Linked DNA regions of Homo sapiens. The protein of the gene in region 2 purifies or fractionates together with the protein of the main gene of each other region. This does not show direct contact. Each region holds a gene or a part of one and is shown on either strand. Other genes may lie near its edges. The genes, in order: LMF1, NUDT9 and PACC1.

Region 1 (3,005 bases), on a different chromosome or scaffold from region 2:
TCTGTCCCTCCACAGACACAGGGCGCCCTGTTTCCCCGGGAGCTGGAACACGGGCCCTCTGTTGGCACCTGGGCTGGCTGTCCCCCCCGGGCAGGCCGAGGGGGGGCTCCACACAGACCCACACTGTGCCTACCGCAGCCGCCCTCCTCGGCCTGAACCACCGTGTTGTCCCCACTGGGGCCCCCCACAGTGGCTCAGCCGTGGGCATCATGGCTCCAGGTGCCGTGGATGGAGGCAGGGGGAAGGGGTGGGTGGGGGAACCGCCCCCCCAGGCTGGGGGAGAGGGGAGGGCCTCTGTCCTATGGTGGGGCCCACTTCTGACTTCTCCCAGGACCCAGCCTCACAGCGTCCTGGGTGGGGGACGTTGCCCCAGAGCTTTGCCTCCTTCCGGCAGGGCTGGCACCCCTGCTCATTCCCATTTACTCCAAGTATTGCCGCAGCAGACACTGGAAGGGTCGCCAGGCAAAGCACCACCCATTCACCTCTCCATCAAGCTCCCGCTCGGTCACCCGCTGCCCCAGCATCAGAGTGTGGGCTGGGGGCACGGCCACCGCCAAGGGGAGGGAGGTACAAGAACTTCTTCATTTAAACAGTGTGTTTTCGAGTAAGCTGGTAAGTGGTATAATAGGAATAGTAGAAGAATATGCCATAGCTATGGCTCAAGAATAGGAATAAGAAAAATGTGCAGTAGACGCTGTTTGTCCGACGATGATGAAAGTGTGCACGGCCGGCTGTCCTCCGATTGAGGGGCCTTGTCAAGGCCTCAGAGGCAGCGAGGTCACAGCCTGGTGGAGGGTCTGGGTGTGCGCTGTGTCCATCTGCACCTCACAGACACCAGTCATGGGGGGATGAAACCGGGCCAAGAACACATGTGTGCACAGGCTGTGTGTGCCTGCATGTGTGGGATGCGTGTAGGCTGTGGCGGGGGTGGAGATGAGGGATAGGACAGAAAATGGCCCATCCAACCCCACATCCTGGCCGGGCGTGTCCAGGTCCCTGTGGGGCGAGGGTTTGGCTGCCCCAGACGTGACAGGGACTTGGCTCTGAGGGTCAGGACCTGGCTGGGAACACACCATTGAAGAGGGAACAGAAACCAGGCCCTGGGACGCTAGAGACCCCAAGAGCTACCTGGCTGGGTCTATGGTCAGGGCTGTAGTGGAGGAAGGTGTCAGGATGGCCATTGTCTCAACTCCTGTGGGCGGCACAGCCCCAGGCTGGGCCTCTGGGAGGAGGGTGGGATGGATGGGAGATCAGAGCCCCTGGCGCCTGGGACAAGGGTTGGCCTGGATGTGGGGCCCCAGGTGGGCAGGGCCTGGGAGCCGCCACAGTATGTGACAACAGACCCCACCCTGGACCCCCGTGCTGGGGGCTGGGTCCCACCGCTCTCCTCTCCACGTCTCTCTTGGCGATGCCCAGCTTGGGCTGGGCGCAGGGAAGGGCAAACGTTGCTGAGCCGCCGAGGGGCTGGGTCTTCGCCTTTATTTCTGGTGCACGTCTAGAGGGGCCCGGGCAGAGGCCACCCACGGTCCCTGAAGTAGGGCCTCAGCTCCTCCAGGCTGAGCGGAGGGAAGTAGGCTCCGATCCTCTTCCGCACCCACCACTTGCCCTCGGCGGCGTGCCTGCCCCCAGGACGGCTGAACTTGTACCTGTAGTGCTCTCCTCGGACCCACCTGCAAGGGGGCACATGTCAGCCCAGGGCCTGCTGGGACTCCCGGCCCCCGACCCGGCTCCTCAGCCTGCTGCTGAGCTGCAGCTGCTCACAGGGTCCCCCACGGACAGAGGGGCTGCATGAGGAGCCCCCACCCTGAGCACAGGTAGACCCCCAGCAGACCCCGGGCAGGGCAACTGTTCCAGTCGGCACCCTCAGCAGTGAACAGCGCAGCAAGGGGGAAGGGCGGACGGGGGGCAGCTCCGGGAGGGGAGACCCAGCAGGGCCCACTTGGCAGAGGGACCGGCCCGGGGAAGGCCAGGAGCTTCACGGGTGGCACTGAGCAAGCCTGAGACCGTTCACAAGGCCCCAGTTTGAGCCCCAAGTGTCCCCCGCCTGGGAAGGTGGGGAGAGGAACCTACTGCTCATGGTGTGGCGTCTCCACCATCAGGCCAGTCCTGGCGCAAGGTGCCTGGGGGTTTCGGTCCACGGGGCAGTCCGAGGCTGTGAGGGAGCCAGGCCGGGACCTGTTTCCTGAGGGCGGAGCCTCTGCTTCCCAGGGCTTCAGGCCCTTCCCTGCCTGAGACGTGCAGATGCTGGCTGGCTGCTCTCCTCTGTCATGCCCGAGTGGGATGAAGGCCCCCACCCCCATCTCCCCTGGAGCAGGGTAGCGGGCAGGTCTCTCTGCTGAGCCCTGTATAAGGTCCCGCCTGACCCCTGGTGACCAGGCCTGGTTTAGGCCATACTGGGTCTTGGTCCCTGGCTGGCAAGCCCTCACTGGACTCTCGGAGGACTGGGCATTTTCTCCTGGGGGTGGGACGAAGCCCCCTCATGTCCAGGGTTGCTCGGCTGCCCCGGAGGAGGAGGCGCCAGGAGGAATTGTCACCGTCACAAGCTCCCGGCCCTCCAGGCCCCTTCGCAGTTGTGCAGCAGGAGCGGAAGCTTCTCAGCCCACAGGGCGGCTGCTGCCTGGCTGGGATCCATGGCAGAGCTGGGCCCCAGCTGCCCGGTGGGTGTGATGGTGCAGCCATAACAGGACCCTCTCATGGCCCCTGGAATGAGCCCAGGCAGGTGCCAGAGGCTTCACACTGCACCAGGGCCCGGTAGCGACTGTCTGGGCTGCTGTCATTATTTGGGGCTTCTGGTGACCTGCACACAGCTGTGCTCTGGGGGCTGGGGGTGGAGACCTTGGGCCATGCCCCTTAGGCTGGCAGGGTGAGGGCCTCTGGGTCCACCCGGCTCCTCCTGGCTTTGAGTCTCTTTGGGTCTGGGTGTGTGATGGATGATGATTCTTCTCTCCCCAAGTCTGAATTACGCCAGGAAAACCGGGAAGACAGAGACCCTCTGGGTGGAGGAG
Region 2 (3,346 bases):
TTTTCAAACATCTGAAGGAAAGAAAACAATAATGTCTGTCTCCCCTAAAGCTTTTCCTGAGATGCTCCAGCTATAGCCCAACCCTACTTAGGTGGATAGGAGTTCCTATCACAGGGCTTTCCAACAGAGATCCTTAGCCAGAATGAGATAAACATGTCCACTAAGACAAGGCAGTACTACTTTTCTTTCCTTTTCCTTGCTTCCAAAAACCCCCAAAGCACCAACCCCCTCCTTTCCTCTGGGATTTATAACATTAACCATGCTTTTCTCAAAAATCTATTTCAATCTTTAACATTTCTTTCCTAACAAAAAAACACTAACTCACAGAGACCTCCACCTCTGTTCCTGTTTTTATAGAACCAAAATAATTACTTAATAATTATATATTGATCACATATTAAGATATTTTGGATATAATGGATTAAATAATTACAAACCATTTTACTTGTTTCTTTTTATTTTTAATGTGACTACCAAGAAGTTTAAAATTCACACATGGCTAACATTTTCCTTTGTGTTTATTTTGTTGTTAAGTACAGGGGTACATGTGCAGGTTTGTTACATAGGTAAACTTGTGTCATGAGGGTTTGTTGTACAGATAATTTCATCACCAAGGTATTAAGCCTAGTACTCATTAGTTATTTTTCCTGATCCTCTCCCTCCTCCCACCCTCCAATAGACCCCAGAATGTGTTGTTCCCATGTCCATGTGTTCTCACCATTTAGCTCTCACTTATAAGAGAACATGCAGTGTTTGGTTTTCTGTTCTTGCATTAGTTTGCTAAGGATAATGGCCTCCAGCTCCACCCATGTCTTTTCAGAGGACATGATCTTATTCTTTTTTACGGCTGCATAGTATTCCATGGTGTACATATACCACATTGTCTTTATCCAGTCTATCACTGATGAACATTTAGGTTGATTTCATGTCTTCGCTATTGTGAATAGTGCAGCAATGAACATACACGTGAGTATGTGTTTATAATAGAACAATTTATATTCCTTCGGGTATATACCTAGTAATGGGATTACTGGGTCAAATATCTTTAAATATTTGAGGACTCTCTACACTCTCTTCCACAATGGTTGGACCAATTTACACTCCCACTAACAGCGTATAAGCATTCCTTTTTCTCTACAACCTCACTAGCATCTGTAATTTTTTGTCCTGATTTCAATTCTTTTCTGAACATCCATTTTTAACTAATTTACAACATATAGTAGTTTCACTAGAGTGAAATGAACATACTGATTTAAATTACTAACTTCCTGGACTTTTTTTAATTCAGAATTTTTGAAAATGAGAGTATCAGCTCTTGTTCACTGATTTTGATCTCTATTGACTAGTGGCTGAAATTTCCTCTTAAAACTAATGCTTCTAAAGTCAAGAAAACATAGTTTCCATTTTCAAAATTAGCTTCAACAAGATCATGTGAAGCAAAATGTGAAGGAAATAATTTAAAGAAAAATCAGATGAAACATTAAACTATACATCCAGTGGCGGTACTCTGCCTAAAGGAGTTTGATGTGGCAGGAACATCCTTCAGGCCTCAGAAGATGGGGAGCGGGAGGGAAGGCATTGACAAACAAGAACTAGATGAAACAGAAGTTATAGCTGATCAAGAATTTATCTTTATTCTGATTATGATTCTTCAAAGAGCATTAGTTGTTTAAATTTAATTTAAGCCATGCTTAAATCGAATACATACAAAATATGATTACTTATATTCCTTTTGACCAAAGAGCTGAAAATTTTGTGTTCCAGTTCATCTTACTCATGTTATTCTGATGCGAAACACTCTAAATGCAAATTGTTTTGAAAGTAAATAGGCCAAGTGGCCTACCCTGCCCTTTTTATAGTATAAATTCTGTGATACTGCCTTCTTTTCAGTATATGCTCCTCTGTGGGCCTTTGGCTTACACGGAGACCATCAGCTACAACGCATGGCAGTCAGCTTCAGAGTCCTCGCTCCAGTGTGCATCTCGTTTCTCAGCCACAAGTTTGATGAATTGAGAGTGACTGGCATAAAGCTTCAGTTTATCATTGATGTCCACCCATTTCACTTTTCCAGCATCATCTCCAGCTTCTAGCATAAGATTATCCATTATCTCACCTGGTTGCCAAAGAAAAACCATCACCAAGAAAAACTCATTTCTGTTTTAGCATATCTATGTCGTCAAGTATTCTTATTTAAAATAATCTTATATCATCATTGTACTAGCCGGCCAAGTGAATTAAAAACTAGACCATTCCATCCCTGGTCAGCAGAATGAATAAAAGAAAAAAAACTAGAGTATTCCAAAATGTCCAAATTTTAACCAAGTCCCTAAATTTTAGATAAACACAAAGAGTTTTCTCTAAAAAGATTATCCTTAAAAACGAGATTATATTACATGAATATGAAACCTTACATCAAAATCAGTCCAAGAGGGATGAGAGATTTAAATGTAAAAAAATAAACAAAGCTGAGGCGGGTAGATCACCTGAGGTCAGGAGTTCGAGACCAGCCTGGCCAACATGGTGAAACCCCATCTCTACTAAAAATACAAAAATTAGCCAGGAGTGGTGGCACATGCCTGCAGTCCCAGCTTACTTGGGAGGCTGAGGCAAGAGAATTGTCTGAATCCATGAGGTGGAGGTTGCAGTGAGCCAAGATCACACCACTGCACTCCAGCCTGGCAACAGGGTGAGACTCCACCTCAAAAAAAAAAAAAAAAAATTTAAATTATCAAAAAAATAAAAAATAAGTGCTCCCAATCACTGCTGGGAATATAAATGGAATATTTCTGTAGGAAATTTGGCAATGTTTATCAAGAGCTTTTAAAAAGTAAGTTTTCTTTGACAAGCACTCATTCTGTAAATATCAGAGTGCATCTTGTGTGCCAGACTGTACTAGGCACTGAAGATACAATAAGCAATCCAGTAATTCCTCTTTGAAGAATTTATTCTGATGAAATAGAGACAAGCCTATTAAAGTATTCAAGGCAACATTACTTAAATATTTTATTTTATTTTATTTATTTTTAGATGGAGTCTCGCTGTTGTTGACCAGGCTGAAGTGCAGTGGCACAATCACGGCTCACTGCAACCTCCGCGTCCTGAGTACAAGCGATTCTCCTGCCTCAGCCCCCCGAGTACCTGGGATTACAGGCATCTGCCACCACGCCCAGCTAATTTTTTTGTATTCTTAGTAGAGACCACACTGCCATACCAAAAACTGGAGAGACAGGCAAATACAGAGAATCACAACTGACCAGGGAGAGAAGCCTACCGCTGGAGTCAGCACCTGGTAGGAACACTTAAAGGGTAACTAACTGCTGAAAGCTGACCTTTGGACTAGCTTGAA
Region 3 (3,654 bases), on a different chromosome or scaffold from region 2:
CCTCAGCAAGCAAAACCCAAAGCCGTAAAGAAAAGGATTTAAGGTTTTACTACGTTAAATTTAAAGTTTCCATAGGACAAATGACATTGGAAACAAAGTTAAAAGAAAAATGACAGACTGGAAGAAAAGATTGGCACACATAACAGATGAAAGTGATCATCCTTGCTAAATTAAGAGCTTCCATAACTCAAAGAACCAATGAGAAAAGTGGACAGAGGATGAGCTGCATTCAGCTCTGGTTGGGCATCATATGGGGAAAACTCCCCAGGAATGAGCATGAGTCCCAGCCCAGTCCTGTTGTTGGCTAGTGGTCCCTTTGGAGACCACTGGGCAAGGAGCTATGGGCTTTCCAGTCAGTACTTCTGCCCTCAGACCCAGAGGCCTCTGTGTACTCTCCCAGGACTGAGACTCTGTCCTTTTTCTCTCTGCAGAAATCTGCCCTGATTGTCCAGGGGCCCCGGGAAGTGAAAAAGCGGGAGCTGGTCTTCCTCCAGTTCCGCCTGAACAAGAGTAGTGAGGACTTCAGCGCCATTGATTACCTCCTCTTCTCTTCTTTCCAGGAGTTCCTGCAAAGGTGGGCTTTTAGAGTTCACAGTGGGCTTACTGTCTACTTTTTATCTTATTCCAGCTGTGTATGTCCCAAGGCTAGAGACGGAGGGGTGAGGGCAGGGAAGGGAAGGGGCATTCTCAGATGACCCACTGGCCCAGGAAGGGACCTCATGAGCTTGGCCGGTCCACTCAACATCTTATCACAAAGTTAAGCAAATCTGGTGTGGAGGAGCATGCTGGCTCTCCATGCACATAGTGCTGGCTGGTTCTAGAGAGATCATTTGGTCTCACCATTGCCTGGGGCTGCTGAGGAGTAGGGGAAGTTGCCTTTGATTTGTAAGTCCCTTTGAGAGCAAGTTCTTGTGTGGTTCCTTGGTTTCCCCCACAGTGTGCACAGGAACCACATCTTGCCCTTAGTGCGGGCTTAATGTATGTTTGCCTGAAATACAGTTGGTCCTTGAACAACTTGGGGTTTGGGGTTACCAAACTTAACCACTCCTGCCTATGCAGCCAAAAATTTGTGTATAACTTTTGACCCCCAAAACTACTAACAGCCTACTGTTGACAGAAGCCTTACCAATAACATAAACAACACATATTGCGTGGTTATATATATCATAGACTGTATTCTTACGATAAAGTAAACTAGAGAAAAAAAATGTTATTAAGAAAATCATGGCCAGGTGTGGTGGCTCACACCTGTAATCCTACCACTTTGGGAGGCCAAGGTGGGCGGATCACGAGGTCAGGAGATCGAGACCATCCTGGCTAACATGGTGAAACCCCATCTCTACTAAAAATACAAAAAATTAGCCAGGCGTGGTAGCGGGCACCTGTAGTCCCAGCTACTCAAGAGGTTGAGGCAGGAGAACCGATTGAACCCAGGAGGCAGAGTTTGCAGTGAGCTGAGATTGCGCCACTGCACTCCAGCCTGGGCAACAGAGCGAGACTCCAAAAAAAAAAAAAAGGAAATCATAAGGAAGAGAAAATATACTTACTATTCATTCAGTGGAAGTGATCATTGTAAAGGCCTTCATCCTCATCGCCTTCATGTTGAGTAGGCTGAGGAGGAGGTTTGGTCTTGCTGTCTCAGGAGTGGCAGAGGCAAAAGAAAATCCGCACGTGAGTGGACCCAGCCAGTTCAAACCTGTGTTGTTCAAGGGTCTACTGCATCTCTGGTATGAGGATATAAGCTCTGCCACCTCTCTTAGTCTTCGATTTACAGTGATGAATGTCCCCTGACCATCAGAAAGTTCTTGTCTGCTCCACACACACTGCTTTGGGGTCACACCGTGGAGCCTAGAGGGCAGGAGAATTTTCTTCATGTGCCTGAGTTGAGAGGGACTCAGTTCCTACCAGGTCCTGCTGAGCCCAGAGGCTCCATTCAGAGCAAGCAGGGAGGCAGCTACAGGGGCAGGGAGGCTGCTCCCCAGCTGGACATGCAGCGAGCTGCCTCCATTCCACACCACCACTGCTTTGTTCTTCCACCCCAGAGCTCGGAGCCTCTGCCTTAGCATTTTCCACCCTTTCTGCCACCTAGAATTCCCTCTCCCTTCCCTGCTTCAAGCTGGCCATCTTGCCTTCCTCCTGGAAGACTTTCCCCGGGATCCCACCCCCACTCCACGCTCCTTTCGTGAGCTTCCTCGGTATGCTGCTGCAGTTTTTACTTGTTTTTATGTTCGCTTTGATTTTGCTGCATCTGCACCGTCTTGGGGCTGATGCTGTAGGTGACCCATCTGGCTGAGACCTCCCCAAGGAACCCTCTTCCCCTCTTTGGGCCTTCCATGGGAGCTGACAGGCTGGTGAGGGCTTCCTCAGGCTCTGCTGAAGTCCAGAGTTCTCTGAGGAGCTGTGAGCGCCATGTTCTGGGGAGCTTCTGCCAACTTCATTGCCGACAGCTTTGGTAGCCATCGATAGGAATGATGGGAGGAGGGAGGAAGATTTCTCCCACTGGGAGCTTCAAGGATCATGTTCCTGCCTTGAGGCCAGTGACTACCCCTCCATTTGGAAACCAAATGGAGAGAAAAGAGGGATGGGCCTTGCTTTTGCTGGTGACTGACAGCCCTGTTGAGGCAATCACAATTTGGAGAGGAGGCAGGGAGTGGGCAGCATCCTGGTTGTGCCAGCAAAGAAACCAGCTTGCAGTGGGGGCTTCGACTCCTGCTGCCAGACCTGCATTGACCTGGATCTTCCTTCTCCTTCCTTCCTCCAAGCCCAAACAGGGTAGGCTTCATGCAGGCCTGTGAGAGTGCCTATTCCAGCTGGAAGTTCTCTGGGGGCTTCCGCACCTGGGTCAAGATGTCACTGGTAAAGACCAAGGAGGAGGATGGGCGGGAAGCAGTGGAGTTCCGGCAGGAGGTAGGTGGCTCTGGGTTTGCTTGAAACTGCTGGTGACTTTTCCACATTCGAGTCTGAGGTGGAGGGAAGCTTTGCAGAGAAGGCTCCTTTGAGCAGGGCCTTAAGGGTGAGTAGGCCTTGGTCAGGATGAGAAGGGACTCCCATGGAGGGCTTCATATGCTATGCCAGGGAGTCTGTGTGTGCTTCTGCAGGCAGCGCACATACCGGCCAGTCCTCACGGAATGCATGTGTGGGGCAGAGATCATTGTGGCTTGCAGAGAGGTCAGTAACTCGCCCAGCTGTGTCTGATGTCTTGCATCTAGCAGCACTTTGAGGGGCTGGCAGTGGCCTAGCAGATTGATTATTTGCAGGGAAGAGAGACTAGACACAGTGGTCCCAAGTGTGCATGTTGATCCTTTTCCTAAGGTCCTCTTCAGCTCTCACAGGTGTCACAGCGAGAGATGCCAGGTGTATCTCCTGGCTGCTAGGCCAGTGGGCTGAAAGCTTTTTGATCAGATTTCCCATTAGTAAAAACTTTTTGATCATATACTCCATATACATATAACTCTGCAGGTGATATAACATACTATTATTGTCTTAGTGTTATATACACTTTAAACATTCAAAAATAGAAATGTTAAAAGGATGAGATAAAAATAAATAGTAAAAAAAGCTAGTCTTTTCTTCTTGTATCCCAGTGGCTCGGGATGCTCATCTGGAGCAGAAGGACACACTCCAGTCAACTAGGCCATCACTGGCCAGAAGTTA

Evidence for each region.
Region 1: the proteins of NUDT9 (region 2) and LMF1 purify together in Homo sapiens (affinity purification with mass spectrometry; one large-scale study listed by BioGRID and IntAct). This does not show direct contact.
Region 3: the proteins of NUDT9 (region 2) and PACC1 purify together in Homo sapiens (co-immunoprecipitation; one large-scale study listed by IntAct). This does not show direct contact.

The regions. Positions count from the first base shown.
Region 1 is NC_000016.10:853,037-856,041, forward strand, and holds the end of LMF1 (lipase maturation factor 1), read right to left. Parts: intron 2,229-3,005; exon of another isoform or gene 2,071-2,228; intron 1,671-2,070; coding exon 1,496-1,670; coding exon of another isoform or gene 1,479-1,495; 3' UTR 598-1,478; downstream 1-597. UniProt on the Homo sapiens protein: Involved in the maturation of specific proteins in the endoplasmic reticulum. Required for maturation and transport of active lipoprotein lipase (LPL) through the secretory pathway. Each LMF1 molecule chaperones 50 or more molecules of LPL.
Region 2 is NC_000004.12:87,456,610-87,459,955, reverse strand, and holds the end of NUDT9 (ADP-ribose pyrophosphatase, mitochondrial isoform a precursor), read right to left. Parts: intron 2,114-3,346; coding exon 1,935-2,113; 3' UTR 501-1,934; downstream 1-500.
Region 3 is NC_000001.11:212,376,815-212,380,468, reverse strand, and holds part of PACC1 (proton-activated chloride channel), read left to right. Parts: intron 1-431; coding exon 432-574; intron 575-2,762; coding exon 2,763-2,907; intron 2,908-3,584; exon of another isoform or gene 3,585-3,654. UniProt on the Homo sapiens protein: Chloride channel gated by pH that facilitates the entry of chloride ions into cells upon exposure to extracellular acidic pH. Involved in acidosis-induced cell death by mediating chloride influx and subsequent cell swelling.